Regions from separate parts of the Homo sapiens genome. Here regions 1 and 3 are each linked to region 2. The links come from fine-mapping of genetic effects on gene expression. A gene starts in region 2. Each other region holds a variant in brackets. All regions are shown on one strand. Distances are between the middles of the regions. Region 1 overlaps KAT6A (lysine acetyltransferase 6A). Region 2 holds the start of KAT6A (lysine acetyltransferase 6A). Region 3 overlaps KAT6A-AS1 (KAT6A antisense RNA 1).

Region 1 (8,181 bases), 94 kb after region 2:
TTGGCTAGGGAGCAGGAAGATGTTATCTCATGCACAAACGGAAGCCGTGGGCTTAGGAGCTCAATCTTTAGCCATAGTATTGGTGAAAGGCAGGATGTGTGGCACAAAGGTGGAGGCAGACAGATGTGGGTGGGAAAAATTGCAGAAGTTTTCTTTTGATTTTGTCCAGTTTAGTGCAGTAGGAAGCAAAAGCATTGGCTGAAAGTGAAGGTGGAGTAAGCAGTGTTGGAGGCTTGAGCAGAGGAGAAAGGGTGCAGTTGTCTTTCAGAACGGGAGAGTGAATGGAGTAGGAAGCATCAGGACCTGCTTGAGGTTTGTGGGTAGGTGTATAATGTGAGACTGGGTAGCATGATTCTCTGTTTTTCTCCACCCATATTCACATTAAGGTAATAACTTCGATTATGTGAAGAGTTGAATTTAACAGGGGTTAGGATTTTGTTGTGAAATTAGAAGAGAAACTAGAGAGTTAAAGGTCTATGCAAAGGGTGGAATTACAGGGAAAAAGACCTTAGAATCTAAGCTGCGTAGAGAGAAAGGAGGGTGTGGGGAGAGTGGAAAGCTGATGGAAGCACTGGATTATGGGTCCTCCGGATGGAAAAGGTAAGATGGCCGAGGACAGAATTCTAGATTTTGTCAATATTTAATGGTAAAAGAATTAGCAAAGGAGATGGATAAAGAGAAGTCTGAGTGTAGAGCAAAAAGGCTTAGGAAAAGGGAAAGATAGGTCACAATATCCAGAATCCTGAAATTTAAGGAGTCCTGAAAATTTGAAAAAAAATAATTGTGGTAAAATATACATAATGTAAAAGTTATTTTAACCAGACTTTTTTTTTTTTTTTTTTTTGAGACGGAGTCTTACTCTGTCACCCAGGCTGGAGTACAGCGGCGTCATCTTGGCTCACTGCAAGCTCCGCCTCCCGGGTTCTCGCCATTCTTTGTATTTTTAGTAGAGACGGGGTTTCACCTTGCTAGCCAGGATGGTCTCGATCGTGATCCGCCGGCCTTGGCCTCCCAAAGTGCTGGGATTACAGGCATGAGCCACTGCGCCCGGCCTAACCAGACCATTTTTAAGTGTACAATTCAGTGGCATTAAAGACATTCACCTTGTTGTGCAATCATCACCATCATCTATTTCCAGAACTTTTTTATCTTGCAAAACTGGAACTCTGTACCCATTAAACAACTCCCAACCCCCCACCCCTACCCCCACCCCTGGTAAGCATCATTCTGTCTTCTGCCTTTATTAATTTGTCTACTCTAGGTACCATAAGTAGAATTATACAATATTTGTCCTTTTGTGTCTGGCTGTTTCACTTAGCATAATGTCCCCAAGGTTCATATGTATTTTAGCCTGTGTCAGAATTGCCTTCCTTGTATTTTTTTTTTTTTTCTTTAAAGACAGAGTCTTGCACTGTTGCCCAGGCTGGAGTGCAGTTGCGCGATCTTGGCTCACTGCAACCTCTGCCTCCCGGGTTCAAGTGTTTCTTCTGCCTCAGCCTCCCGAGTAGCTGGGACTACAGGCATGTGCCATACACCCAGCTAATTATTGTATTTTTAGTAGAGACGGGGTTTCACCACGTTGGCCAGGATGGTCTCAATCTCTTGACCTCATGATCTGCCCACCTTGGCCTCCCAGAGTGCTGGGATTACAGGCGTGAGCCACCAGCGCCCAACCATTGCCTTCCTTTTTAAGGCTGGAGAATATTCCATTGTACGTATGTACCACATTTGGTTTATCCATTCATCTGTCAGTGGATACTTGGGTTGTAAATAGTGCTGCTATGAACATGAGTATGCAAATAGATACCCATATACAAAGAACTGCTTTCAGTTCTGTGGGGTCTATAATCAGCAGTGGAATTGCTAGATTATGTGGTAATTCTGTTTACTTTTTTGAGGAACCATCATACTGTTTTCCACAGCAGCTGTGCCATTTTGTATTCCCGCCAGCAATGGGACAAGGGTTCTGATTTTTCCACATCTTCACCAACATCTGTTATTTTCTGGTGTTTTGCATTTAAAAATAATAACCATCCTAATGGGTGTGAAGTAGTATCTGATTGTGGTTTGATTTACATTTTCCTAATTATTAGTGATGTTGAGCATCTTTTCATGAGCTTATTGGCCATCTGTATATCTTCTTTGGAGAATGGAAAGAAACTTTTCCAACTTTTTTTTTTTTTTTTTTTTTCGAGACAGTCTGGCTCTGTCACCCAGGCTGGAGTGCAGTGGCGCGATCTGGGCTCATTGCAAGCTCTGCCTCCTGGGTTCACCCCATTCTCCTGCCTCAGCCTCTGAGTAGCTGGGACTACAGGTGCCCGCCACCAAGCTCCTCAGCTAATTTTTTGTATTTTTAGTAGAGATGGGGTTTCACCTTGTTAGCCAGGATGGTCTCGATCTCCTGACCTCGTGATCCGCCCACCTCAGCCTCCCAGAGTGCTGGGATTACAGGCGTGAGCCACCACGCCCGGCCTTTTCTAACTCATTTTGCAATAAAGTCCCACTTGACCTGAACTGAGTTACTGACAAAAACATGATCTGAGCTGATGTGAGACTATTTGTATTCCTTACTTATGCCAGTTAATGTGAATATTCATATGCTTTGCTAAAGAAATTTTAGTGTGTCTGATTATGGAGTGCTGCTCCAAATCCTACTAGGGCTATACACATGCATGTACTATACACATATATGTACTAATACTTTTCTAAAATCAGAAAAATTCAGAATTCCAAAACACATTCTACTCCAGTCCAAGGGTTTTGGGTTAAAAGTTTGTGGACTTGTAGCTTCATTTCTTTGGAAAACCAAGTTCCCGTTTTTAAAAACTTACCCATAAACTTTGGGAATTTAGGGAGGAATTAGTTGAGGGCTGTCGTTACTTCCGTCACATCTCAACCCATGTCATTCTTTTCTGTCTTTATGCTTCACTCGCTGTTCCTGCCCGGTGCTTTTGCCTCTTAACCTGAGGCTTATCTGAGGCTTATTTTTTCATCTGCAGAGTGGGTATATTGTTTTCTACTTTGAAGGATGGATTGTGGGGACCAAAGGAGGTAACGACATAAGGCTCAGGTCAGAGTCTAGCACAATAGGTGCTCCACGAACATGATTTTCTCTAGTCCTTAAATTCATGCTCTCTCTGTTGTGGAGCATGTGAATTCATTCTTTCATACCTCTTTCATCATGTAACTTTTAATCCCTAATGAATGGAATTACTTACTGTAGTGTTTCTGTGGGAAAATGTTCAAATGCCAGAAAGCCATCTCTTCTCCCCACATTCCCAGCCTCACACTGATAATAAAGGGGTACCTCCCTCTCTCCTCAAAACATTGCACCCCCTTGGGGAATGGAGAGGGAAGGGCAAGTGAGAGCGCTCCAGTGGACAGATGGGGGAAGGCAGCAGCTCTGTGTTTACAGAAATTGTTAAATTATTTACACAATTTTGGTGTCCCTACCAGATCCAGAGTTGGGGATACTGCAAGAATGGCCTTTTTTATGTTACAAACTGGAATTAGATGAGTCATTTAATTGAAGCTTAAGTTTTTGTAGAAGAGTAATACTCTTTTCATATAAACTGGTGGTAATAAAAGCTTTATTATCTAGCAGTAGGCATAAAGTTTTCTTTTGGTTTAGCCCAATTATTAGTGTATTTAATCCACCCCCTTGCTACCCCCTGTTAGTTATCTTAGATTAAAAGGTCAATTCTAGCCTGGAACATACGTCTTCTTTTAAATAATTTGGCATATTTAAATTAGGAGGACATGAAGTGGCAGAATTTGAGTTAAACATTTAAATATATTTTGTGCCCTTGATTATATTAGACACCTGCTGCTTTGGAAAGTCACATGTTTAGCGAAAACGTACTTTGGTTGAAATGTTAAAATAAAAAGACCTAGCAAAGGTAACCTTGTAGTTCAGATATGACAGTTTGATTTTGGCTAGGACTGGAATGAGTGGTTTCTGTGTAGCCATTTCTTCCTCCCTGTGTAGAGAGCCTTGCTGATTTCTAAATCTTCGTAAAAGGAAACACCCTTGCTGTGGAGGCTTGCTCAGGGGAGCTGGGAGTGGAGGCGGGCTCACACATGAGCGCATGTGCAGGAACGTTTCACGGTGCAAAGGTTAAAGGCGGGTGTGGGCAGAGGGGAACCTACCACAGGTCCCATTCTGGAC[A/G]GACGTGCGCAGTTGTGGTGATGTGCAAACAGCTGTACTGGAACTGGATATCCACTTTCACATCGGGCATCCGCCTAGAAGAGCAGCGGGCAGCTGATGGGAAGACCCTCAAACAACAGACAGTGCCGCAGCAGGTGCATGACTTCAGCTTTTGGGCTTTCTATCTGATCCTTGCCTCAGGAAGTTAGATCTGGTTTCTGGTATTTAGTTATTTTGAAAGTTTCCTATACTGTTGTTATTACTTTGAGTTGTGAAGATAGATGAAAAGATAGTACTTTATGAGTTAGAGTAGTTGATTCTAGAATGTAGTTTAAAAACAGCCTTTAAAAAATCTTTTTACAAAGTTCTGTTTGGGTTTTGAGAAATGAAAGAAATCTTATTTTAACCCTGTATTATGTATTCTTCATTGTTTTTGGTTTTGTATTTGGAGGAGCCCCAGTACTTGGTGGTGTTATAACACAATTCATCCCACAAACAGATCTTTGTCTTTTGTTTTGAGGTGTCTAAGGAAGAGCTTGAGGTTTCATTTGGCTACATTCCAGTATGAAACCTGAGATAAGTCCCTTGGCCTTTTATAAAAGAGAATGGTTAGAAAGACCAGAAGGTCTCTAATGAGTTATGGTGAAGAGGCTTCTTTAAACGGATTTATATAAAACCAATGAATAAAAATTTCTTTTAGTTTTGTTATAAAATATGTATGTGTGTCTGCATGCTCCAACAAGGGATTTTTACTAGTCTCTTAGTGGTCTTTAAAGCATAAAATTGAAGGATAATTTCAGTTATCCTTTTGGGGAAGAGTTATTAATGCTTGTTTTTGGTTAGGCTAAACTCTTTTGTCTTTTTCTTGTCAGTTAGTATTTGTAGAGCATCCATGATATATCTGCACTCACACACATGGACATGAGTGTGTATATGCATCTGTTGCTAGACTGGGTGCAGAGCAAGTCATGTTGCCCTTGAGTTAACATGTTAAGACCCTTAACAGCCTTTATTTTCTTGAGCTACGTACTTATGTTTGAATTTCTGATCTGGAAAGTCAGGGAAGTCATAAAGGCTTTAAAAATTATTCTCTGTTTAGATAATGTAGTTCAGACTATTGCAGGGATGAGGGGTATAGAGATTGTTTTCATTGTAAAGAGAAGGCAGAAAAAAGAGAAGGTCTGTATATAACAGAGTGTCTTTCTTTGGTTAAATCTATGCAGAGCTACTAATGAAGGGAATTTTAGGCATAGTATGAAATGAAGACTCTCTTGATACTTGTTTTGTCAGATTCTTTTTGTATTTCTCTTAAATATCTACTTTCCCAAACTAAAAAATCATCCTTTGTGTGCTTACATATTCAGTAGGGCATCTCCATTGTTGTCAGCGGAGGCAGTGTGGTAGGACTTCAGCAAATATGCAGTGTCCCCCTCCCTCACTTGTAAATTATTCTTTATCTTATATCACCAAGTATCAGCAGTTTCTCTTTAATATTAAGTCATTAAGAGTGAGTTTAATTGAGGAAAATATTTTTACTGTTATTAAATGTAGAAATGCAGCAACACCCAATGCATTTGGTTCTAAGAGATTTATTAGCATTTTTATTTTTCATCTGGGTGCTCTGTTTAAGGAATAATATAACTTATTTCAAAATATGTTAGCTTGTTCTGGCTTTTGTTTTTGTTTTACTCCTTTGGAGTCCTGAGAAGACAACATTTAGATTCAGAACTTTCTTTGTTATCTCAGTGTGTCTAATTTAGCTAACTTTTGAATGTATTTCTTGACTGCACAGAAAGTTGGAGTGACTGGTCCCCCTGATCCACAAGTCCGCTGTCCCTCTGTCATTGAGTTTGGGAAGTATGAAATTCACACCTGGTACTCCTCCCCATATCCTCAAGAATACTCAAGGTATGTTTTGAGAGACCCTTGACCTTCTGTTTTGAGATCCATAGAAGTCTGGAACTGGAAGGGATCTTGAAGATGTTTGAGTCCACCTTATCCTTTACATTTGAGGAAACTGGGGGCTTTTAAATGTCCATAATAGCAGCGGCTTTGGCAGCCACTTCATCCCAGTTTGCTTTAGATGTTCTCTTCTGTAACCTCTCAGACGCTGATGTTTAAAATGAGAAACCCGAATGCATGGTCACAATAAAAGGGGAATGCTTTTTTATTTTTTTTTTAAGAGAAATTTGTCTTCACTCCTATCACTAAGAATTTTGAAAAAGAGAAGAACTCATATATAAATTAATATAAAGTTTCAGTTGATTAGTCTTTGATGTAAATAAATATTTATAATTTGACAAACTTAATAAATGGTTTGTTTTCCCAGAAATAATTGGACAATTGGTGTAAAAATTATATATAAATAGTTTGGGCTTCCAGATATATTAATAAACATTGATCACTCACCAGCTTGGTGGAGCTAAAGTGGTTTCATGACTCAGCTCTGAAATTGGTAAGTTGTGTAACCTTAAAAGCTGCCCAACTGCTCTGTGCCTCAGTTTCCTCATCTGTAAAGCAGAGATAGTAATAGTACTTACTTCGTGGGGATATTGAGGACATTAAATGAGCTACAACATGTAAATCACTTAGAAAATGGTAAGTGCTCAATAATGTCAGTTATTATATTTTTTCTTTATGGTTAAAATTAAAAGATGAAATGAGATCAAAAAATTAAATACTAGTTAATTGTAGTGACATTAATGCTCTCTAATCTATAAACTACTTATGCCTCAGTTTCCCATTTAGTAGGGTGTTACAAGAAATAATACATCATGGTGCTTTGTGGGTTAAATACATGTTCAGAATATTCTCATCATGTAAGTTTTCACCCATGTAGTAACATTGCCTGGCCAAAATATTAGCAAAATTTATTTAGTACCTTACAATATGTTGAGTGCCTTAACATGGGTTGTTGCCAAGAAACTAGGAATAGGCCAGTATAGTTGTTAAAAGGGCCATCCAGTAAAACTTATTTATCTTTTTACTTTTTCTTTCCATATAATAACTTGCTTCTCTAGTCTACAGTCGAAGTAGAAAAATAGGGGTAAGAATGCCATTTCAGACACTGACCTCAAAGTGACAGCTAACAAAAACAGAAGAAAAAGCAAAACCCCAGGAAACTAACACACAAGCTCATGAAACACAGCAATTGAGGGCCATTTACTGTGGGATCAGTTAGCCCCAAACACTGTGGTGTATCTTTAAGGAAGCACACTGTTTCATGAGCTGACAACAATTAATGTGACTTTAAGATAAGGTTACATTGTATTTGCATTTCCATATTATACATATATATTATACATGTATGTATTGTATATGTATATATGTTAAAGGAAGGCAGGAACTTCCTCAACTACCTACAGAACTCAGCGTTCAAGTTAACTCATTCCTCAGGAATTCTGAATAGCCAAGATCTTTTATGACCGAGAAGAAATACGCCAAGGACACGCCTGTAATCCCAGCACTTTGGGAGGCCGAGATAGGCAGATCGCCTGAGGTCAGGAGTTCAAGACCAGCCTGGCCAACATGGCGAAACCCTGTCTCTACTAAAAATATAAAAATTAGCCAGGCGTGGTGGTGGGTGCCTGTAATCCCAGCTACTCAGGAGGCTGAGGTAGGAGAATCGCTTGAACCTGGGAGGCGGAGGTTGCAGTGAACTGAGATCGCGCCATTGCACTCTCGCCTGGGCAACAGGAGCGAAACTCCATCTCAAAAGAAAAGAAAATAAATATGCCAAGGAATTAATTTTTTCATCAGGTTTAAAATAAGTTGTTATGATCATTTTTTAAGTGAGCTCTTTGCAAGCTGCCCAAATCACAAGAGCACTCAACTTAGAAAAGAAAGCTTTTCCACATGTCTGTCAACTGTTCCGGAGACTATAGTACAGATAGATGGAAACCACAGGCCCCTTGTCTACTCAAGGTGGGGAGAGGAAATAGATTCAGGAATGGAAATAGAGGGCTAGCATTTACTTTTGTTCAAGAGAATGATGAGAATGGAATCATAAACTGTTTTCTTTTAAGATAGATATT
Region 2 (8,181 bases):
AGACCTGCTGTAAAACAGGGGAATTATTCAAATAGAAGGAAAACCTTCAGACAGAAGCACAGAAATGCATATTGGAATGAAGAGCAATATAAGGATAAATATGGAGGTTAATCTAAATGAGTACTTATTGTACAGAACAATAAGTATAAATTCTTGTGTGGCTTAAAATACACACACAATTAAAATCCTTGACGACAATAAACACAAAAGGGAGATGGGTAGGTGGAGATACAGTATTTTAATGTCTTAGCATTCCCGGGGAAGTGGTAAAAGTAATTATTTTGTATAAGATCATAAGTCAAAAAGCAATGTTGTAATCTCTAAAACTAGTAATGTATAATTTAAAAATTAATAGAGGGGGTTAATGATATAGTTAAAATATTTTAATTAATTCAAAAGAAGGCAAAAAGCAGAGAACAAGGAATGTGAAATAGGTGATCCAAAATAAATGGTAAGATGGTAGGCATACATCCACATATACCAGTAATTATATTAAATGTAAATGGACTAAAAATGTTTCCTGTTGAAACCAGGACAGAGCAAACTTCCAATTTCAGGCTGGCATGGACTCTGTATAAGACACAAGTACCAAGTACAAGTGAAAAGGCAGGGATTCCTAGAGCAAAATATGCAAGGGGGAAATAACCTTTAGTTGCCAGCTCCACAGGGCTGAATCGTGAGTAAAGTTTGAGCTAAGAAAAACTATCCTTTCAGAGTGCAGATTGCTTTTTAACTTGCAAATGATGAGGACTTTAATCCGTCTTTGTTGCAAGATTTTTATTTTGAGAAGACCTCCTGAATGTGCCATTTAGTTATGCAAATGTAAAGCAGAGACTCTTTATGGAAGCTGTGTGAAAAGCTCAACTGTGCTTTGTTGTTATAAATTGTTTTAAATTCTTGCTACTGTTTAATCCCCAGTTTGGTCTTTTCACAGGATGGCTGTGGCTAGTTTTCTTCCAAATTATCCAAAAGTAAACACAACTCATCTCTGTATTATTTTTCTTCTGAAGGCCACACACTCTAGTCTCACATGAAGAACTCATTGTCTTTGCATTAATATGACTTTATCTGCCCTCTTTGGGAAATAAAAATCTGCCTATTCTACTAAAAGAAAATACATATATATATATATATATATATTTTTTTTTTTTTTTTTTTTTTTTTTTTTCCTGGAGGTGATTTCATTACAAACAGGGACCATTTTACCTGAGAATGTGTCTATCTGATTCATCTAGGATGAAAGAGATCCTTTCTATTGGATTATCATGTATTCCAAATTTCTCTACTGCTTTGGAGATGGGGCTTGGAAGTAGGCGATGAATGGCAACTCAGTCAACCTCACTACATTACACTTCTGTTTCTGTCAGTGTCAGGATATTGATTAGGCTGGACCATGATCTGAAAAGTTACGTTATTCTTACTGAATGGTCCAGAGTCTACCGTATGGAGGGTAGGGCTATGGATTAGAGTGGAGACGGGATAGATAGAAAAGTTTGGGTTCCCTCTTGCTGTGTCTCTCAGGCTGGAGTGTAGTGGCGATCATAGTTCACTGCAGCCTGGAACTCCCGGGCTCAAGCAGGCCTCCCGAGTAGCTGGGCTACAGCAGCGCCCCGCCACAAACGGCTTTCTTAACGGCTTAAAAAATTGTTCATTCACGAGCAACATTTTTTTATTTTAAACCGCCTACTACAGTACTTGTACAACATTATTCTAGGTGCTGGAGATGCAGAGTCATTATAGGAGAGCATTTACCAGTGAATGTATTCGGAATATATATATATATATATATATATCACATGTAAGTGCAAAATGACTAGAGCAAATGATACTACTACAGAAGTTCAGAAAAGGAAGTCAGCATGGAAGTTAAGGCAGTGGGTGAGAGGGAGGCCCTTAAAAGCTAAAGCTGAGATAAAATGAGGTATTGCGGGCGACAGTCTAGGCGGGGTGTGTCGTATGGGGTTGGGGACAGGGCAGATAAAGGTCAGGCAGCAGGATACACGTCCATGTCAACGATTAAACATTTAGTGTCTTTTTCATGTCTACTGTCTTTCTAGTGAATGCAGAAAAAAAAAAAATGCATGACTTGGCCAGGTGCAGTGTCTCAGGCCTGTAATCCCAGCACTTTGGGAGGCCGAAGAGGGCGGATCACTTGAAGTCAGGAGTTCGAGACCAGCGGCCTGGCCAACATAGTGACACCCCGTCTCTACTAAAAATACAAAAATAAGCCAGGCGTGGTGGCGGGCGCCTGCAGTCCCAGCTACTCAGGAGGATGAGGTAGGAGAATCGCTTGAACCCAGGAGACGGAGGTTGCAGTGAGCCAAGATCGCACCACTTGCACTCCAGCCTGGGCAACAGAGCGACACTGTCTCAAAAAAAAAAAAAAAAGTATGACTCAGTCTCTGCATCAAAGAGTTTAAAGTAGATGAAAGGCAAGACAAAGAAACGTCCATACAGCCAGTAGTGGACAGGCAGGCCATGAAGAACCGCCTGCTCGTGGTTCCAACGCCCTAAGTATGGACAAGAGTTCCGCACAGGGCAAGAAGGGAAGACCGGCTTTGGAATAAGACAAATCTCAGTCCCAGGCTCAGGTGCGCGCCACATACTAGCTGTGTGACCTTGTCCAAGTCACACGACCCAGGTCTGTGGAGTCTCCCATAAAATGGCTCTAGTGAGCTCCAAGAACCCTCTCAGCTGCTGGGGGAGGGAAGAAATGAAGTCACTGCTGAAAGGGGTTAAGACGGGTGCTTCTGGTTCCACCCTCTCCCCAACTCTTCCCACCGACACAGGAGAGCCGTCGGGGGCTGAGGCGAGCTGCCAGGGGTGAGGACGGGAAGCCGCCTCCTCTCCGCCCCCCAGGCCCCGCCCTCGGGCTCCGGAAAGTCGCTGTGCAGGCAAATGAGTGGGGAGGGAGGGCTCACTAACTGTAAACAGACGCCGCCGAGAGTTCCCATCCTGCGTGGCTGCCGGATTTCCGTGCCACACTGAAGCCACCCCACCCAGACTCCTGCCCTCAGTTTCCCCAGCGGTGGCATGGGGTGCACCAGCTCCTCCTCTCCCGGGTCGCCGTCTGACTTAAACGCGTGAGACGGGAGAGGAGGAACCCCCGCTCCCCAGCCTCCAGCCCCACCAAGTCCTCCTCCTCCCCTGGCTTTGGCCTTTTGTACCGGCCCCACGTGACCCCGCCGGCCGGCTCTTCCCTGCTGCCCCGCCCCGCCCTCCGGCCTTTCCCGGCTCTCGGCCCAGCTCTTCCCGCTCTCGGCCGCCCCCCACCCGCGCTGCCGGGCCTCCGCCTCCCCTCGCCGCCCGCCCAGGCTCTTCCAGCTCCCTCCCCCAGGCCGCCGTTCCCTCGCGACGCTCCCCTCCCCCCGCGGCTGTTCCGCCGCCTTGCCTCCCCTCCCCCCGGCTGGAGCTCACTGTCTCCAAGATGGCGGCCGTGTCAGTTTGGGGCATCTCCGCGGTCCGGCCCGGGGCCCCGGGATCTCGGCTGTCCTTCCTCCCGGTAAGTAGCCGAGGGGCCGTTCCCGGCCGCCCCCGGCCGCCCAGCCCGAGGCCGAGCCGCTCCAGGGCCCACTCCGCTGCCTCGCGGGGTCGGCGGGCCGCTGCAGGCCCCGCCGCGGCCTGCGCCGCCTCCCGCTGCTCTGCGCCAGGCCTCGGGCTGGGGCGCCGTGGCCGCCCCCTCGCGCCCGCCCGCTCGCTCGCTCGCTTGCTCGCTTGTTCGGCGCCCGGCTGCCCCGGCCCGCGGCCCGCGCGCCGCCGCCCGGCCCCGCGCTCGCGGGCCCCGCGCCCCCGATCCCGCCGGCCGGGCCCGCCCTGGGGGAGCCGGCGGGTGGGCGGGCGGCGAGCGGCCCAGGCCGCGGAGCCTCGGGCTGGCGGAGCCGGCGAGCCCGCTCTCCCTCGGGGCGCGCCCACCCGCCCGCCGCGCGCGTGCCGGCTGTGCCGGGCCGGGCCGCTTCTCCCCGCGCTCGCGGGCGCTCGGGTTCGGGCTCGGGCTCGGGTTCCGGCTCCGGCTTTGGCTCCGGCCGGGGGCGCGGGGATCCGAGCGGGGCTGAGGCGGCGAGCGGGGCTGACAGGCCGGCGGGTGTTGTGGTGCGAGGCGCAGCACGTGTGGTGTTGTGTCTGCCGGGCTGTCAGCCCAGCCGCCGAGGGGAGGCCGGGCGCCTGTCAACCTCGCGGCTTGGCCCGGTGCGCGACTGTCAGGCTCCCAGCAACCCGCGCCGCCCTCGAGCCGGCCCCCAGAGCTTAGGGTGCGGAGCTGGGCCGGGGCTATGCACCGCTCTGAACTCCTTCACGTGATTTCATTGTTAACTTGTGCTCGGGGTCTGTTTCCATCGCGTGGAAACGGTGCAGCGCCCCGTCGGCGAGCTGCCGGGCTGTGCAGATCCAAGTTTTTAAAGTTTCTCGCTCTTTGAAAAGAGAGCGCGAAGACGTGTTTAGGGGTGGGGAATGGGGACGGGAAGGACTGTCGGAAGCGAGTTGCGCTCGCTCTAGCCGCTCGTGTACTTTCCGGGAGTTAAGATCCGAGGCTGCAGGCGCTTGACTTTCCGAAGACCTGGAGACTGATGACAATCCCGACTGGAAAGACAATGAGTGACTGTCACTCATTCTTTTACCTGCGAAGCTTAGTCAATTAGGACGTTCGTTCCCAGCTTGTTAAACTCAGGATGTAGCTTCTCATTTAGTTTAGACTTAATATCTGTATAATGAGCTTACTTGGAGTAATGATACTCTGATTTCTATCCTCTTGAGACCCTCACCAAATTGAAGCATGATTCTCCCAGGGGGCTTCTTTTTAGGCAGCTGATTTAAAAACAAATCTTGGCTCAGGTTTGAATGTTTGCTTCACTCTTTTCTTTCCTATCAGAGTTAATAGTAATATCTCTTTCCTAGTGTGTATTAGTTTTCCGTTTGATTTTAATGTCACTACCAAGAATAGTTGCTGTGGGAGCCATTTGTCTAGCATTGTTTATATTGTAATGCAAATGATCTCCAGAATGAGAGCAGAAGTTCTAAAAAACACTTCAGTTAAACTTATTTTTGGAGGCAAAAGAGTTAGATTCAGAATTCAGTACTTTAGTGATTAAACAAGATTGCATCTACCAGATTCTTTTATAGGGATACTGACTTTGATTCAGAGAGACAGTACATTTCTGTTTATGTTTTATTAATGTTCGTTTCAGGACAGCAATCTTGAATTTATATCTTTATTATTTGGGCTTCTCTTTAGTCCTACAAGTAGCCAGTGTATTTCTTTTTCTGTACCGTCCGTTTGATATGTAGTATGTGCGTTGACCCCAGTGATTCTGGGCCTTCCTCATTTCTAGTTTTCCTGTCTGAATTACTTACACGCAGTTTGACAGTTGTGACTCTCTTCAGCATATGAATAGAAACATCTTAGTTTGGGTTAGGAGAAGCTATCAGCATGTAATTCTTAAAATTTGAATGAAAGTGGATTATTGTTAAATTCAGTAAGCACTTTTACTCTAGGCTATTTTCAATAGTATTTTTGTTTCCATTAGGAGAGATTAAGGTAATACTGTACTTAAATTATAAACTGGGTGTGCATATTGTATTCATTCTTTTCATGTAAGAACTAAAATTTTCTCAGTCGTTTTCTGCCTTATTGACTGTTTTTGTCTACTCTGAATGTCTAGAATTTTGAAAGATGAAAGATTCACTTTTACTTTCATTGCAGGATTCTTTCTACTAATCCAGATACTTGTTGAAGTGCTGACTAGTTTCTTGGGGAAAGATGTCAAGGAAGAGTTGAAATTCCTAGACTGGTGAGCAGAGATTGCGGAGTACAGAATAGCCATCACCCACTCTGGTTAGTGGTAGCTTAAAGGTCATTCTTAGAACATGTCATCGTGTTTCCTCATTGTATCCTAATTACTCATCTTTTTTTTTTCTTTTCTTTTTTTTTCTTTTTTATCCCAATGGTTTACATACATGATTGTTTTGGAATATTAATAGATAAGTTTGGAAATTCTTAAGGGTGCCTAGTAAACACTTGCTGTTTGATTGCTTTATGATGAGGATGCTTATTTTCATTCGAAATAGGTCTTGGTAGAAAACTGACCTTATTTTCATTGCTTTTCAGGCATAAGATGCACATTTTTCTGCTCTGGAGCCGGGAATGAAATATTCTTGAGTTCTTACAACTTTATGACGAGACCCATGTGTGGTGCTATTGAGAAATTCATTGGGAAGTTGGAAGACATTTCAATCAACAGGTTGTTTTGGTTTCTATAGTACAATTGGGGTGGCATTCTGTTTTGTGAAAGGAGGAAGGACTTAGGCCAGAAAACTCATATGCTATGGTTAACTGGTTCCCAGCCTCCGAGAATCTTGTTTTCCATGGTGTAAAACTTACTCAGCATCAGGATAAGGGATAACGACTCTATGGATATACAGAATCCTTCACCATGGTAAAACTCGCAAACCCGCTTTATACTGAGTGGATTTTGGAGGCCATCAAAAAAGTGAAAAAGCAGAAACAGCGTCCTTCAGAAGAAAGGATATGCAATGCTGTGTCTTCATCCCATGGCTTGGATCGTAAAACTGTTTTAGAACAATTGGAGTTGAGTGTTAAAGATGGAACAATTTTAAAAGTCTCAAATAAAGGACTCAATTCCTATAAAGATCCTGATAATCCTGGGCGAATAGCACTTCCTAAGCCTCGGAACCATGGAAAATTGGATAATAAACAAAATGTGGATTGGAATAAACTGATAAAGCGGGCAGTTGAGGGCTTGGCAGAGTCTGGTGGCTCAACTTTGAAAAGCATTGAACGTTTTTTGAAAGGTCAGAAGGATGTGTCTGCATTATTCGGAGGCAGTGCTGCCTCTGGCTTTCACCAGCAGTTACGATTGGCTATCAAACGTGCCATTGGCCACGGCAGACTCCTTAAAGATGGACCTCTTTATCGGCTCAACACTAAAGCAACCAACGTGGATGGGAAAGAGAGTTGTGAGTCTCTTTCCTGTTTACCTCCAGTGTCCCTTCTTCCACATGAAAAGGATAAGGTAAGAATGGCATATGCTTCGGGGTTTATAGAGCTGATGATATAGGATGCTACAAATTCACATTTCTGGGAAGTTATATTCAAGTTTTTTGTTTGGGGACTTCTGTGGAGTGATCACCTCTGGTTTTTTATTGGTGAGTTGTAGCTATGAGAGCTTCATAGATTTGTTCTGGTACTTTGAAATATTTGAAGCCTAAGATTAAAAATGTAGAATGTTAATCTGACTAAAAGAACTTATTTACATTACAATGAAAAAGTGACATATGAGTTTAAAACTTTTTTTTAAATTTTTTTTTATTATTTTGCTTGAGGAGTACTCCAGCGTGAGACTTTAAAACTTTAACTAAAGGTTCTTAGAACACCTTACTACTGGAAGTTGATGAGCAGCCAAATCATGGAGACTTGAATTTGAAACAAGCAGATGACTCTGAGAACATTTTTCTGTTTTCCATTTTGTTGCAGATTACTCGTTAGACAGAAATGAGACAGATTCTCATGACCCATAGGCGCAACTAAGCAAACTTAGCAATTCTTGTTTCTGCTGTTTGTATTATAGCTTTCTGTCATGTATTATGGCTTTGCATATGATGAAGTCCTAAATGCTATTTATGACAGCTGTAGTTGCATGGGACAGGAATACAGTATCCTAAACTAGAAAAGTTCTGGAGGGTCTGGAACAGTAGTTCATGCCTGTAATCCCAGCGCTTTGGGAGGCTGGGACAGGAGGATGTCTTGAGCCTAGGAGTTTGAGCCCAGCCTGAGCAATATAGCGAGACCCCACGTCCACCAAAAATAGAAAAATTAGCCAGGTATGGGCGCGCCTGTAGTCCTAGCTACTTGGGAGGCTGTGTCGGGGAGGATTGCTTGAGTACAGGTGTCTGAGGCTCCAGTGAGCTATGCTGTCACCACTGCACTCCAGCCTGGACAACTGAGACCCTGTTCTAAAAACAAAAAGAAAGGTAAAGTTCTGGAGAGTTGGGAGTTTTGATGCCCAGATGTGTACTTTACTCTGTTGTGTTTTAGGATGTTATTGTATATAGTTGAAATTATGACTTCTTAAACAGTAAATTTTGGTGCTTAAATAGATATTTGGAGATTAGGAGAATTTTGTTAGTACCTGTTTTTTACATTGACCTAGTATCTTAGCTGTAAATTTA
Region 3 (8,181 bases), 53 kb before region 2:
CACTTGAGGCCAGGAGTTTGAGACCAGCCTGGCCAATATGACAAAACCCCATCTCTACTAAAAATACTAAAATTAGCCGGGTGTGGTGGAATGTGCCTGTAGTCCCAGCTACTTGGGAGGCTGAAGCAGGAGAATCACTTTAACCTGGGAGGCAGAGGCTGAAGTGAGCCAAGATCGTGCCACTACACTCCAGCCTGAGCAATAGAGCAAGACTCTGTCTCAAAAAAAAAAAAAAAAAAAAGGAGAAATGTCAAAATCTTGAATCTCTGAGATTTTGGGCAAGAGGTGTGCAAGCACCCTCTTTACATTATTCCTTTACTTGCTTAGTTGTTTGGGTGGGAGGGAGTTTATTGCCTGAAATCATTCCATCTTTAAATACTTCCAGTTCCTTTAGCCTTTTTGGAACCATATACTTTTCTTGACATGCGTTGCGTCCCCTGAGCCTGAATTCCTCTTGAGTGCTTGAGATGTGCATGTGTCCCCCTATGGAGAGGCTGCCCATCAGGATCTTCCCAGCCGGTGAATCTTGGGGAAACACCCCAGGGAGTTTACATGTACAGAACTTCTACTCATGTTAGCAATAGCTCCCCACTCTTAAATACGCCTCATCAAGCAACAACAAAAAGTCGTGTTCATTCGTGAAACCAAGGGCAGCTGGGGGCTCCTGACTTGGACACAGCACAATCTAATGAATAACTGCCCTAAATCAGAGGCTGCTCTCTATGAAGAGATATCTAGACAAAGTGTGGTCTAGTGGGCTATAAATCATGAATACGAGAGTCCATGCAACACAATAATGGCTAAAGTTTCGTTTTGTTTTGTTTTGTTTTCTTGAGATAGGGCTTCACTCTGTTGCCCGGGCTGGAGTACAGTGATGTGATCTTGGCTCACTGCAGTCTTGACCTCCGGGACTCAAGTGATCCTCCTGCCTCAGCCTCCCGAGTAGCTGGGACTACAGGTGCATGGCTTTTAAAAAAAAAAAATTTCGTAGAGACAGGCTTTTGCCATGTTGTCCAGGCTGGTCTCAAACTCCTGGACTCAAGCAATCCATCTGCCTCAGCCTCCCAAAGTGCTGGGATTACAGGTGTTAGCCATCGTGCCTGGCCGGGCCAAAGTTCTTTGGCTTAGTTCAGCCTGTATTAGTTTAGCCCACATAACCTGGCACAGATCCTCTGGATCCTCACTTCCTTCGTGCCTCCTTGCACCTCTGCCACCATCAGCCCCAGCCAGTATAGCCTGTATATCTCCTGCTACTGCCCACGCCGGGGATTTGCTCCTGTTCTCCCTGCCTCTGGAAGGTCTTCCTCCCTCCATGCATATTCTATTTATAAATAATTTGTGGCTGGGCATGGTGGCTCACACTTGTAATCCCAGCACTTTGGGAGGATGGTGGTGGGTGCCTGTAGTCCCAGCTACTCAGGAGGCTGAGGCAGGAGCATGGCTTGAACCCAGGAGGTGGAGGTTGCAGTGAGCTGAGATCAAGCCACTGCACTCCAGCCTGGGCGACAGAGTGAGACTTCATCTCAATATAAATAAATAAATAGTTAACTGAATTCATATGTTCTGCTCTGACGTCTTTGCCAACCTTTGTCTTTTTTCTCCCGTTAAACTAAAATCAGAAAAAACTGCCCAATTTGGCCTGGTGTGGTGGCTCATGCCTATATTCCCAGCACTTTAGAGGCCGAGGAGGGTGGATCACTTGAGGTCAGGAGTTAGAGACCAGCATGGTCAACATGGTGAAACCCCATCTCTACTAAAAATACAAAAAAAAAAAAAAAAAAAAAAAGCCAGGCATGGTGGCAGGTGCCTGTAATCCCAGCTACTCAGGAGGCTGAGGCAGGAGAATTGCTTGAACCTGGGAGGTGGAGGTTGCAGTGAGCCAAGATTGTGCCACTGCACTCCAGCCTGGGTGACAGAGCCAGACTCCATCTCAAAAAAGAAAAAAAAAAAGCAACAACAACAAAAAAAACCTGCCCAATTTACACCATGTGCAAATGTGCTGATAACTATCATTTGCTGAGCATTTACTTTATGCCATGCATGGTGGGGATCTGTACAATCTAATTAAAAATATAAAACCTTATGAAGGTAAATATATTTGTTTTATGTTTGAGGAAACTGAGGCTCAGAGAGATCACGTGGTTCCCAAGAGTTACAAAGTGAGTGAATGTTAGAGCTGAAATAGGATCCCAAGACTAACCCAAAGCCTGTAATTACTTTTCTATGATTTGTCTATGCAATAAATAAGCTACTGTATATAAAAATAATTTTTCGAATGTAGAAATGTAGTGTTTATTGACATACTTGATTTGTTTTTATGACTTATAAAGATTAAAAACATTCTTTGAAGAAAAGCTGCCCGAAACTACCAAGTTATAACTGGATCTGAGGTTTCTCCTCTTTGGACACATCTCTTCTTTGACCTCTAATCAGAAGTGTCTCCATGTCAGGGTGACGGTGAGGCTGCCCCTAGATCTGCTTGGTGGACAGAGCCGGGGAATGTGTGTGTCTCTGTGTGTGCGTGTGCACACATCAACATCTATATTTATTTTATTATCCATCTGTATATACTGAAAACCATGAGCTCACACCAATATCTCTAATTTTTTTTCTTAAGACAGGGTCTCACTCTGATGCCCAGGCTGGAGTACAGTAGTATGAGCTCAGCTCATTGCAGCCTCAACCTCCTGGGCTCAAGCGATCCTTCCACCTTAGCCTCCCAAGTAGCGGGGACTACAGGCACACGCCACCACATCCAACTAATTTTTTACATTTTTTGTAGACACCGGGTCTCACTATGTTGCCCAAACTGGTCTCAAACTCCTAGGCTCAAGGAATTCTCCCACTTCAGCATCCCAAAGCACTGGGATTATAAGGGTGAGCCACCATGCAAAGCCCAATATCTCTAATTCAGTCTAATTTCTCCCTTCTCATTTTGTATCTCCCTTTTCTGATCCCTAGAAAGCTGCTCCTATTTTTCTGAATATGTATATTTACTTTTGTATTTTTTTATTTTTGAGAAGGATTTTTGCTCTTATTGTTCAGGCTGGAGTGCAGTGGTGTGACCTTGGCTCACAGCAACCTCCGCCTCCCGCGTTCAAGCGATTCTCCTGCCTCAGCCTCCCAAGTAGCTGGGATTACAGGCATTCGCTACCACGCCTGGCTAAATTTTGTATTTTTACAAACCACATAGAGATGGGGTTTCGCTACATTGGTCAGGCTGGTCTCAAACTCCTGACCTCAAGTGATCCACCCGCCTCGTCCTCCCAAAGTGTTGGGATTACAGGCGTGAGCCACGGCGCCCAGCCATGAATATGCATATTTACTTTTGAATCAGGCCACGCTTGGGTGTGTGCTCTGTCTCCTAATACCTGCACCTCCTCACCCTGCCAGAGCTCAGACACTGTGTCCAGCCCCAGCCCCGGCTACACTGTATGAGAGCCTGTAAGTCTCAGAGCTGGAAATTGAACCAGGCAGATCGACTTGAGCCTCCGTGATCTTAGTTTTTGGACAGAATTATTCAGCAGAGAAAAAAAGCAAAAAGGCAAATATGTCTCTCCTTGACTTTTTGAACATATGGAACACAGTTATAATAACTGTT[TTAATGTC/C]CTTGTCTGCTAATCCTGGCTTCTGTGTCAGTTCTATGTCAGTTTTGATTGATGTATTTATCTCCTTACTATGGGTCATATTTTCCTTCTTTGCATGACTGGTTATTTTTTATTGGATGTCAGACACCATGAATTTTACTTCGCTGGGTGCTGGATATGTTTGTGTTCCTATAAATAATTGTGTGCTTTGTTCTGCGATGCAGTTAAGTTTGTTGGAAACAGTTCAATCCCTTCGGGTTGCTGTCATGATTTGGTGGGGGATTCTGGCGCTGTGCTCAGTCTAGGCTAATTATTCCTCACTGCTGAGGCTAGTTTCTTCTGGGAAGCCTCCCTGGTGTCTGGGACTCTTCAGGCTTCTGCTCTGGCTGGTGGAAACAGACCCTGGTCCTGGTCCCGTGTCAGCACTGAGCACTCTTATCTTGAATTCTGTTGGGTGGTTCTGTCCCCAGCGTCTGATCGTTCCCTGGCACATCCGCACTGCTCAGCACTCAGTGAAGGCTCAGGAAGACCCTCTGCAGATCTCTGAGCTCTCTCCCTCTCTCCACGCAGCTCTCTCTTCTTTGGGACTTTGCCCCAAGAACTTTAGTCCCTGTGGCCTTTCTCCATTCTCAGCTCCGTCTCCCTGACCCAGGGAATCCCCTGGGCTCTGCCTCAGTCTCTCTTGCCTGTGCCCTGGCCTGGGAACCCTCACAGGCTGAGGCAATTGTAGGGTCAGCTCATTTCCCTCCTATCTCACAGGAGTCACTGTCCTTCATTACCTGATGTCCAGCATCTTGAAAACCAATGTTTTGTATATTATGTCTGTTTTTTGTGGTTGCTGTTGTTTCAGGTGGAAGGGTAAATGCGGCCCTGGTTGCTCCATGGTGACTGGAAATGGAGAAATAGCAATACATATTTAAGATAAATGTATTTTTAAAAATTCTTAAACTCTTAACCCCCAACATATTTCTCAATTCAGATTCTATGACAACAACTGGTATTTTAAAGATCCCATAAAGATTCCAAGTTATGAGAGTTAAAAATGATCCTAACAGATAGGAAAGGGACTCTCAAATCCTGTTTAAAGAGTGGTGGCTAGAAGTATTCCTGACTCTGTTTCTGATGGTTAGTGCAACTTAAAGAATGTTTAATAATTCTTACAGAATATCGGCAATATGCCTATAACTATGCTCAAGAATTAAGGGAGTGCCGGGCCCAGTGGCTCAAGCCTGTAATCCCAGCACTTTTGGAGGCCGAGGTGGGTGAATTGCTAGAGGTCAGGAGTTCGAGACCAGCCTGGCCAACATGGTGAAACCCCATCTCTACTAAAAAAAAAATACAAAAAATTAGGCTGGCATGGTGGCAGGTGCCTGTAATCCCAGCTACTCAGGAGGCTAAGGCAGGAGAATCACTTGAACCTGGGAGGCGGAGGTTGCAGTGAGCCAATATTGTACCACTGCACTCTAGTGTGGGTGACAGAGTGAGACTCCGTCTTAAAATAATAATAATAATAATAATAAAAGAAGGGAGTAGTCCTAACCTTAAAGAACTTGCAAATTTTTAGGGAGACAAGACATTTACACATGTAAAATGAAATCACAGGGTAGAATTGCTAATGTTTAGACGACTGATTAAGACAGTGAGTATAAAATACGATATGCTAGAAAGTATCTTGTTCCTGATGATAGACACTGGTAGGCTGTTCTACCCCGCCCACCTTTCTTTTCAAAACACTTCCATTCAAATAGATTAACATTCCCACGTTACCCGCTTCATTTGACAAGAACAAAAAGTTGACATGCCATAGCCGATACGGTAGATTGGTTCTCTCAATACTTATTTCAACCTCTCTTCTAGGGTACCTTCTTGCACTGCAAAAACAGGAAAGCTAAAACATGATTCTTCCCAGACTCCCTTGCAGCTGGGGGTCTGGATGGGATTCAGTTTCCACCAATCAGATGCCTCTTTTTTCAGAAGTGGATATGCAACTGAGTCAAGTGGGAAGAAAGGCAGCAGGCATTGGTTTCGTGGGTGTGAATTGCAGCAGGTGCAGCACGGCTTTGGAGCTGACTGTTGCAGTGGTGTTGCTGATCTACAGGACACAGCCAAGGCAGTGTGTTCCTGATCTTCAAAATCTGTGAAAGCAATATGGTAGCAGCCCCCCGGGACTCCCGACAGGCTAAGCTTATGATGCTCTATACAAGAGATCCTCCACCAGGGGCTATTTTGCTCCCAGTGGGGGCATTTAGCAAAGTCTGGACACATTTCTTTCTTTTTTTGAGATAGGGTCTTCCTCTGTCACCCAGGCTGGAGTGCAGTGGTACAATCATAGCTCACTGCAACCTCAAACTCCCCAGCTCAAGCAATCCTCCCCGTCTTAGCCTCCTGAGCAGCTAGGACTACAGGTGCGTGCCACCATGCCTGGCTAACTTTTAAAACTTTTTTGTAGAGATGGAGTCTCCCTATGTTGCCTAGGCTGGTTTTGAATTCCTGGGCTCAAGTGATCCTCCGGCTTCAGCCTCCCAAATTGCTGGGATTACAGGCATGAGCCGCAGTGCCTGGCCTGGAGACATTTCTTATTGTTGTGACTGAGGGTGTGCTATCTGTATCTAGTGGGTAGAAGCCAGTGATGTTGTGAGACATCCTATAATGCACAGGACAGCCCCCTCTACAAAGAATTATCCTGTCCCAAATGTCAACCATGTCTGTCCTAGAGCCTGCGTTTTGCATGGTGGTGTCCTGATTCCAAAAGTTTCCAGTAATGATGAAGTAGCCAGGTGGTTTCCTTTTTTTTTGAGATGGAGTTTCACTCTTGTTGCCCAGGCTGGAGTGCAATGGCGTGATCTCGGCTCACTGCAACCCCCGCCTCCCGGGTTCAAGCAATTCTCCTGCCTCAGCCTCCCAAGTAGCTGGGATTACAGGCATGTGCCACCACGCCCAGCTAATTCTGTATTTTTAGTAGAGACGGGTCACCATGTTGGTCAGGCTGGTCTCGAACTCCTGACCTCAGGTAATCCTCTCACCTTGGCCTCCCAAAGTGCTGGGATTACAGGTGTAAGCCACCGTGCCCGGCCAGGCAGTTTACTTTTATTTGCATTTATGTTACTGGATTTATTCCTGAGCCATAACTTTTTGTTTCTTTGGTTTCTTTTGGCATATCTTTTTCTTCTGTGCTACCTCCTCTTCCAGTTTAGGAACAATTTGTTCTTTTTCAGGAAGGGTCATCTCAGAATGTCAAGAGGCTCATCTGACCGTGAGCTCTCTCAGTTTGATAGGCATCTTGGGGGCTTTGTTCGCCTTCATGTGCTCAATGACTAGAGAATCTACATACAAATTCTTAAGGTCAGCATTACTCTCTGCATCTTGGGACAGCAATAATTCATCACTCTTTTTGGGCCACTGACCCTGCATTACCCCCACGGTCTGGCCTGGGCACTGCTGTCAACTCCACCATGGTAAGGCAGCATGGCACACATTGCTTCTATATTGCGGCATCTTTCAGATACTGGGTAGCTTTTGGTATAGGTAAAGCCTTGGTGGCTTGGGCAGTTTCACTGGTATTCCTGAAGTGAACACAAAGATTGGATTTGTGCAATCTTGTGGAGTTTTCTGGGTCAAGTGAGTAATGCACCATTTTCAGAGATTAACTTAGGCCACTTACGGGAAAAGCAGAGGGTCACTTGGGCCCTGTCATTCTGAGACTCATTCCTAGAGGTCCAGCCTAAAGCCTGCTTTTCCAACTGCAAACATTTCTGTAAGCATCTAATTCCTTGGATTAAATTCCTTTTCTGTTTAAGATACCCAGAGCAGTTTCTAATCTGTGATTGAAGCCTGACGCACATGCCACTGCAGGAACTGATCCCCTATGATCTCGCCATTGAAAAAATGCACAAAATGTAATTTTGTGCTAACGAACCATGAGAAGTGTTAAGCTCTTGTTTATTTTTTTGTCTCTCTCCTTTAACTCATGGAGGCATCTGTCAATCTGTATGTAGAATTATGTGTAATACGCTTGCTCCAAGGTTTTTAAGATAGCACAAAGCAAAGATACCCAGAAAGCAAGAAGATGCAAGGGACCTTTAACGATGTGTCAGGAAAGAAATTCCTGACATTTTCAAATATAAACAAACAGACAAACAAGAATGCACGAAGGCCTGGAGTGGGCATGAAGGCTTGCTGGAGGCAGCACTGGGCAGGCGGGGAGAGCAAGGACACTGGTCAAGAGCAGCTGTTTGGGTTAGAACGCTGGCTCTGTGTCCTGGGGAAGTTGATTAACTTCATCTATAAGTTGGCAATTGATAATAGTCTCTATGTCATAGGGACAAGTAATCCATATATGTAAAGCATGCAAATGCTGCTTGATGCATAATAATACCTTTTTTTTTTTTTTGACGGGGTTTTCACTGTCACCCAGGCTAGAATGCAGTGATGCAATCACGACTCACCGCAGCCTCCACTTCCTGGGCTCAGGTGATTCTCCCATCTCAGCCTCCTCACAGGCATGTGCCACCATGCCCAGCTAATTTTCTGTATTTTTTTTTTTTGAGACAGTGTCTTGCTCTGTTGTGCAGGCTGGAATGCAGTGGCACAATCT

The links.
Region 1: its variant is fine-mapped to the expression of KAT6A in whole blood (TOPMed, PIP above 0.99).
Region 3: its variant is fine-mapped to the expression of KAT6A in whole blood (INTERVAL, PIP 0.93).

The regions. Positions count from the first base shown.
Region 1 is chr8:41,953,170-41,961,350 of GRCh38, reverse strand. KAT6A (lysine acetyltransferase 6A) reads left to right here. Exons shown (of 17, transcript NM_006766.5): 9 at 5,940-6,055. Among named protein-coding and RNA genes, the nearest start is that of KAT6A-AS1, 94 kb to the left of the region's middle. RefSeq lists an enhancer at 4,314-4,363. The variant A/G (reference allele first, on the strand shown) is at 4,169.
Region 2 is chr8:42,047,222-42,055,402 of GRCh38, reverse strand. KAT6A (lysine acetyltransferase 6A) reads left to right here and starts at 3,416. Exons shown (of 17, transcript NM_006766.5): 1 at 3,416-3,502; 2 at 6,101-7,025. The coding sequence starts at 6,426. KAT6A-AS1 (KAT6A antisense RNA 1) reads right to left here and starts at 3,653. Exons shown (of 2, transcript NR_136589.1): 1 at 3,418-3,653. RefSeq lists silencers at 518-812, 2,773-2,932, 3,123-3,752, 3,853-4,322 and enhancers at 2,282-2,802, 2,803-3,324.
Region 3 is chr8:42,100,358-42,108,538 of GRCh38, reverse strand. KAT6A-AS1 (KAT6A antisense RNA 1) reads right to left here. Exons shown (of 2, transcript NR_136589.1): 2 at 3,552-4,475. It also overlaps the pseudogene RPL17P30. Among named protein-coding and RNA genes, the nearest start is that of AP3M2, 49 kb to the left of the region's middle. The variant TTAATGTC/C (reference allele first, on the strand shown) is at 3,602.